2 linked regions of the Homo sapiens genome follow. The protein of the gene in region 2 interacts with the protein of the main gene of each other region in a biochemical or structural test. Each region holds a gene or a part of one and is shown on either strand. Other genes may lie near its edges. The genes, in order: DAP3 and AHR.

What was found.
Region 1: the proteins of AHR (region 2) and DAP3 form a complex in vitro, tested with the Homo sapiens proteins (one study listed by BioGRID).

The regions. Positions count from the first base shown.
Region 1 is NC_000001.11:155,723,551-155,727,090, reverse strand, and holds part of DAP3 (small ribosomal subunit protein mS29), read right to left. Parts: intron 1,710-3,540; coding exon 1,601-1,709; intron 1,165-1,600; coding exon 1,072-1,164; intron 1-1,071. UniProt on the Homo sapiens protein: As a component of the mitochondrial small ribosomal subunit, it plays a role in the translation of mitochondrial mRNAs. Involved in mediating interferon-gamma-induced cell death. Displays GTPase activity in vitro.
Region 2 is NC_000007.14:17,329,342-17,333,375, forward strand, and holds part of AHR (aryl hydrocarbon receptor), read left to right. Parts: intron 1-610; coding exon 611-734; intron 735-1,414; coding exon 1,415-1,545; intron 1,546-4,034. UniProt on the Homo sapiens protein: Ligand-activated transcription factor that enables cells to adapt to changing conditions by sensing compounds from the environment, diet, microbiome and cellular metabolism, and which plays important roles in development, immunity and cancer.

The sequences.
Region 1 (3,540 bases), on a different chromosome or scaffold from region 2:
AAAAGGCTCTATGGGTACTCAGGACTGTTAACAGATGGCAAAAACAAAACAAAACAAAACAAAACAAAACTCCATGGCGACCTCTAAGGCAGAAGTTTATGTCCATGGGTATTAAATATCAAAAGAAGGACTGCTTAGCATCAAAAGGCTTCAGGAAGCTTTTAGCCGAATTTCCTTTTGTCACATTGACTTCACCTTATAATCTGCTTGGCAGTAATATCACGAAGAAATCATGATGGATGAGCTCAGTCTGCTCTACATCTGGAGTAAAGGCTTTTCTTCTTCTTCTTTTTTTTTTTTTTTTTTGAGACAGGGTCTTGCTTTGTTGCCCACGCTAGAGTGTAGTGGTGCGATCACAGCTCACTGCAGCCTCCTCCTGGGCTCTAAGCAATATTCCAGCCTCAGCCTCCCAAAGTGCTGGGATTATAGGTTTGAGCCATCGTGACTGGCAAAGGCTTTTCCTTTAGCTATCAGATCCCTGTTAGGAAAGTAAAGCTGAGGCCGGGTGCAATGGCTCATGCCTGTAATCCCAGCACTTTGGGAGGCCAAGGCAGGTGGATCACCTGAAGTCAGGAGTTCGAGACCAGCCTGGCCAACATGGTGAAACCCTGTCTCTACTAAAAATACAAAAAAAATTAGCCGGGCATGGTGGCGGGCGCCTGTAGTCCCAGCTACTCAGGAGGCTGAGGCAGAAGAATGGTGTGAACCCGGGAGGCGGAGCTTGCAGTGAGCTGAGATCGTGCCACTGCACTCCAGCCTGGGCGACAGAGCAAGACTCCGTCTCAAAAAAAAAAAAAAAAAAAAATTAGCTGGGCGTGGTGGTGTGGTGGGCGCCTGTAATCCCAGCTACTTGGGAGGCTGAGGCAGGAGAATCTCTTGAGCCTGGGAGGCGGAGGTTGCGGTGACCTGAGATTGCGCCTCTGCACTCCAGACTGGCCGACAAGAGCGAAACTCCATCTCAAAAAAAAAAAAAAAAAGAAAAGAAAAGAAAAGAAAATTAAAGCTGCAAGGCTACCACAGTAACAGGATAACTAAACCTAACAGACAGAAGAAACAACAGGAAGTTCTTACCATCTGGAATATGTAGTATCAGCCAGTCCTGTTTTGCACAGAAATGAATAACATGGCAAAGACTTAGGGTTTTTCCTGTTCCCTTCTCTCCATCTAAAGTATATGTTGTTAAAGAAAACATGACTGGAAGGATCACTTGTATGTGAACAGTAGTTATGCTTTGTTTTGTTTTTTTGAGATGGGGTTGGAGTGCAGTGGCTTGATATCAGCTCACAGCAACCTCCGCTTCCCGGGTTCAAGCGATTCTCCTGCCTCAGCTTCCCAAGTAGCTGGGATTACAGGTGCACGCTACCACACCCGGCTAATATATTGCATTTTTAGTAAATGCGGGGTTTCGCCATGTTGGCCAGGCAGGTCTTGAACTCCTGACTTCAGGCGATACGCCTGCCTCGGCTTCCCAAACTCCTGGGATTATAGGTGTGAGCTACCATGCCCGGCCTCAACAGTACTTTTTTTCATTTCTTCTGTTGCCTTATTTGAGGGGAGAAAGCATTGGTTCATGAGGGTCCACGCAGGCAGGAAAGGATACACAGAAGATATCGTATAGCTGGATAAGCAAAACTGGTGTTTTTCAGGTAATGCAGAAGTTCTAGGGCTGGTTTCCTTACCATCAGGCAAGCTTCACTGAATGTCTTCACCTGATAAAGTAGGAAAGAAGGAAAGAGTGGGTGGGTGTGGAAGGAGTGGGTGGGGGGTGGTATATATACTCTGCCTAAAGTGGCAACCAAGACCATCAGATTGCATGCCTCTAATTTACTCAGTTAGGAGAAGCTGGGTTGGTACTGAGTTTGAAAATCTATCCATATAACTTAGCTAAAAACTGAAATACATTATTCCGCACTAAGTAACATGATAGTCAGCTTTTGATTATTCCTATTACTGAAGCATATATTCTATCTCAGCTGAAATCTATAAATAATTGATATATCTCATAACAAAATTATGTATACCACTTAGGGCCACTGTAAATATGGAAAGCATATAGAAAAATGCTTAAAATTTCTGACACAAGTTAATAATTCAATAAACATTAACTCTTTAAATTTTTTTTCTTTTTTTTTTTTTGAGACGGAGTTTCACTCTTGTTGCCCAGGCTGGAGTGCAATGGCACGATCTCGGCTCACCACAACCTCTGCCTCCCAGTTCAAGTGATTCTCCTGCCTCAGCCTCCCGAGTAGCTGGGATTACAGGCACCCACCACCATGCCCGGCTATTTTGTATTTTTAGTACAGAAGGAGTTTCTCCATGTTGGTCAGGCTGGTCTCAAACTCCCGACCTCAGGTGACACCCCCGTCTTGGCCTCCCAAAGTGCAGGGATTACAGGCGTGAGCCACTGCACCTGGCCTAAAATTTATTTTTAGTTGATTTTTTTTTTTTTTCTTTTTTTGAGACAGAGTCTCACTCTGTCACCCAGGCTAGAGTGCAGTGGTGTGATCTCGGCTCACTGCAACCTCCGCCTCCGGGGTTCAAGCAATTCTTCTGCCTCAGTCTCCTCAGTAGCTGGGATTACAGGTGCCACCACCATGCCAGGCTGATTTTTGTAATTTTAGTAGAGACAGGCTTTCACCATGTTGGTCAGGCTGGTCTCGAACTCCTGACCTCATGATCCACCCGTCTCAGCCTCCCAAGGTGCTGGGATTATAGGCGTGAGCCACCGCACCTGGCCTAAAATTTATTTTTATTACTTTAACCATTTAGACTTTTTTCTCTAGAACTAAATACATGGCGGCTCAGGAGCAGGTGTGACCAGCTGCCTCACAACTCTAAGGCCATCCATACCTCATACCTCCAGCATACTAACCTTTCAGAGTTTAATTCCCCTTTTGCTACCAGAATACTTTGGTGGGAAATTTGGGAAGTACTAATGTGTGTGAAACTGATTTGCAAAGAAAATATTAAAATATGTCTACTAATAAGAATATCTAACAAATACTGTTTGTAAGTATAACTAAAATAGTGTTAATTTTTTTTTTTTTTTTTTGAGACAGAGTCTCGCTCTGTCGCACAGGCTGGAGTGCAGTGACACGATCTCAGCTCACTGCAACCTCCGCCTCCCGGGTTCAAGCGATTCTCCTGCTTCAGCCTCACAAGTAGCTGTGACTACAGGCGTGTGCCACCACGCCCAGCTAATTTTTGTATTTTTAGTAGAGATGGAGTTTCACCATGTTGGCCAGGCTCATCTTGAACTCCTGGCCTTAAGTAATCTGCCCACCTCAGCTTCCCAAAGTGCTGGAATTACAGGCGTGAGCCATTGTACCCAGCCAGTGTTGATATTTTTAAAAGAAATCCTAACAAAACAATTGAATTGGTGTAGGATTTGACAGGCAATTCCAAACTTAATGGAAGGCTCAATGTTCAAAAAAACATGATAAAGGTATTAAAACAAATGTTGGCTGGGCGTGGTGGCTCATCCCTGTAATCCCAGCACTTTGGGAGGCCAAGACAGGTGGATCACCTGAGGTTAGGAGT
Region 2 (4,034 bases):
TGGAAATGTATTTTTTATCATAACTTGCAGTTAAAAAAAAAGGAAAACTCTGGTTTAAGCACTAAGGACTCAGCACCGTAGTAAATGGTGAGAGGCAAGAGAAGGAAAGTGGGTTTAATATGGTAAAGGCACAATCCCTTGCTCTTGTGGAGTCTACTTGGAGTGAAAATTTTATATGAAGAAAATTTTAGAGAACAGTGAAGGAAATACATAAAGAATACCATTAAGCTTAGAGAAGTCAAAGAGGCCTGGGGTGGTTAGGAAAAGCTGCATGGAAGAGATAAGAATCTAAAAACTAACAAATGAATATGGAACATAAACAGATTTTAATATGTTGCATTTAAGGAATGGGGATGTGACTTATTTGAGCAAGAGCATTCATGTTGGGAACTGATGACAAGTAACTTTTGGCTTATCTGTTGTAGTGCCAGTCTCTTTAGCTTTTTCTACCTTAGGTTCTATCTTAGGTGACTAGGGAATTTTAGGAATCATTCAATTCGTATTCATCACCACTAGCAAGCACCCACTAATCTAAATAGGCTTTAAAATTAATTTAGCCATATTTTTTAATCAGTCCTTTTGTTGTATTCCTTGTATCTTTTTTCTTTAGTCTGATGTCATACATCAGAGTGTATATGAACTTATCCATACCGAAGACCGAGCTGAATTTCAGCGTCAGCTACACTGGGCATTAAATCCTTCTCAGTGTACAGAGTCTGGACAAGGAATTGAAGGTAAGAATTGATGGTACAAAAAATAGTGTTGGTAGTTTTTAAATATGAGTCTGTGAAAGGAGGCTGGGAACCTGTAGGGTCATAGAACTCCATGATAGGGAAGTAGTGGAAAGATGTAAAGTCTGCAATCATAGGCCACAGCTAGGTCACAAAGAGCCTGATGAGCTAAGGAATATTTTGGCAAATGAGAGCCATTTAATGAGTTTCAGGCAACAGAGTATTGCCATAGTCAGTAATGTATTTTATAAAAATAAGTAGTACCTTCATGAAAGATGGAAGGAAGGTACAAGGTTGATACCTGAGTGCATGTAAATTATTGTGTTTAAAATGCACCAAAGAAAAAAGTAAGCTAGCATATGCAAGTATAAAAATGCTTTTCTCAATGCAAAAAATGTTTTTGGAAATTTGTTAAAGTGTTAAGAAAACAAAAATGCATTAGAAAATATGAAAATTGTTGACAGTGATAGCTCAATAAAAATTTAAAAAATTATGCAAGTTCTATCTGATAAAAGTGATATTTAATAAACTTTTAGTTTCTTGTCATTAGCTCTTTTGAAAATGATTTTTTTGTATTCAGAACACAGACTCCAGTTTAGAAACTAATACAAATTTTACCTATTCAAGTGCTTAATTTTACAGCAAAATGGAAAGTAAATTTTGTTTTGCCTTTATTTCTACAGAAGCCACTGGTCTCCCCCAGACAGTAGTCTGTTATAACCCAGACCAGATTCCTCCAGAAAACTCTCCTTTAATGGAGAGGTGCTTCATATGTCGTCTAAGGTGTCTGCTGGATAATTCATCTGGTTTTCTGGTAAGGTACAAAATTTTATGATACTGGCTTTTACTATTGTTACAATAAAAGCTTGAGGCAAATTTAATTTAGCAAAATATAATTCAGCAGAGAACTATTCCCAAATCAGGCAACCCTCAGAACCAGAGAGCTTCAGAGAGCTCACTTAAAAACATGGGCTGGAGCATTTATGAACAGAAAATGCAAGTGAGGTACAGAAATGGCTTGATTGATTACAGCTTGGGATTTGCCTTATTTGAAGATGATCTGATTAGTTGGCCACCTGTGACTGACTGAGACTCAGCTATTTGGTTACAAAAGTTTAATTCTACTGTTAGGCTTTCCGTTAGCTTATATAGTAAATGAAGTTGCAATTCCTTGGTAAGGACTTAAGGAGCAGAGGCATCTTCAGCCCAAATTTAGTTTAACATTAAGTTATAGAAAAAACAAGCCAATTTTCTTTGGTTATCTTTGATTTCAGCTTTAAAAATCTGCTACCAAATAATTTGATAAAGGAAAGTAACATTTTAAAGTAATTATTTCTGATTTTGACTATCTTCTATAACTCAGAAAACTGTTCTTTAGGATATAGTAACAAAAATTGAGTGAAATAACACGAAGCCTTGTATTTTGACTATTTTAGGATTTTTAAGGTATGAGAGAATTATGTAGCCCTTTTTTAATAGGAGGATGCTTACCATCTTGGGATTGAATGCCTGCTAGACAGAGAAATTATGGCCTTTCCATATGTCTCAAATAACTGCCACATAGAAAAACGATTGTATATTCATGATTGTGGAATCATCATTTGATAGGAGATGCTGTTTTCTTGTTACAAAGTCTGAACACCTGCATAGGAGTTGACTGTAGGGAACAGCTTAGGATTCCTCAGAGTGGACTTGTCTGTTATCTCATTGTATCCTTAGCTCATGTTACCAAGTACAGGAGAAGAAAATACAAAGTATATTGTATATTCTTTTTGTGAATAACAAGGAATTTGAAACAGATAATCAAATCTTAAATTAACATTACCAAGCAATGATTTTTGTTTATGTGTTTATTTCTGAAGAGGATTTTGCTGACCCAGAATTAGAATTATGCTTTGAGACAGTTTTCCCAGTGTTATTGCTCATGAACAATTAGTATGTAGAGTCATGTCCTGCATAATGATGCTTTGGTCAATAACAGACCATGTATATGATGGTAGTCCCATGAGATCATAATGGAGCCGAAAAATCCCTATCACTTAATGATGTCATAGCATTGCTCACATGTTGATGGTGATGCTGATGGAAGCAAACCTGTGTTGCCAGTCATATAAAAAGTATAGCACATACAATTATATATGATACATAATACTTGAAAATAAAACAATAATAAATCACTATGTATTTACTATTAATCATTATTTTACTTTATTTTTAAATGTATTATACTTTTAATTATTTTATTTTAATCATTATTTTAGAATAAGGTTAACTGTAAAACAGGCTCAGGCAGGTCCTTCAGGAAATATTCCAAAAGAAGGCATTGTTATCACAGGAGATGACAGCTCCATGCATGTTATTGCCCCCGCAGACCTTCCAGTGGGACAAGATGTAGAGGTGGAAGATAGGATCATTAATGATCCTCACCCTGTACAGACCTAAGCTAATGTGTGGGTTTGTGTCTTAGTTTTTAACAAAAAAAGTTTAAAAAGTAAAAAAATTAAAAATTAAAAAATAGAAGAAAGCTTATAGAATAAGGATATAAAGAAAGAAAATGTTTTTGTATGGCTGTACACTGTGTTTAAGTGTTATTACAGAAGAGTCAAAAGTTAAAAATGCAAAAGTTTATGAAGTAAAAATGTTACAGTAAACTGTGCTGGGATTACAGGCATAAGCCACTGCACCTGGCCAAAAGGAAAATATTTTTTATAAATTCAGCGTAGCCTAAGTGTATAGTGTTTATAAACTCTATAGTAGTGTACGGTAATGTCTCAGGCCTTCACATTCACTCACCACTCACTCACTGACTAAACCAAAGCAACTTTCAGTCCTGCCTACCTTGTTTACAATAAGTGCTCTTATACAGGTATACCATTTTTTGTCTTTTATACTGTATTTTTACTGTATATTTTCTATGTTTAGATACACAAATACTTACCATCATGTTACAATTGCTTTAAGTATTCAGTACGATAGCATGCTGTACAGGTTTGTAGCCTAGGAACAAAAGGCTATACTGTATAGCTTAGATGCGTAGTAAGCTATACCATCTAGGTTTGTGAACCTACCCTCTGATGTTCACAGGATAATGAAATTGCCTAAGGACACATTTCACAGAACATGCCCCTTTTGTTAAATGACATGTGAGTGTATGTCTGAGGTGGAATATCTGTGTGCAGGAGGGCCTTTTCCTCCTTGTGCTGCTATTATTTTGATGTCAGAACCATCCCTTGGACTGGTTGATATTGTTTTAAGCAATTAAATATATCATGTTCATGTTTAAGTGCCTTTGTTTTCCCTGTC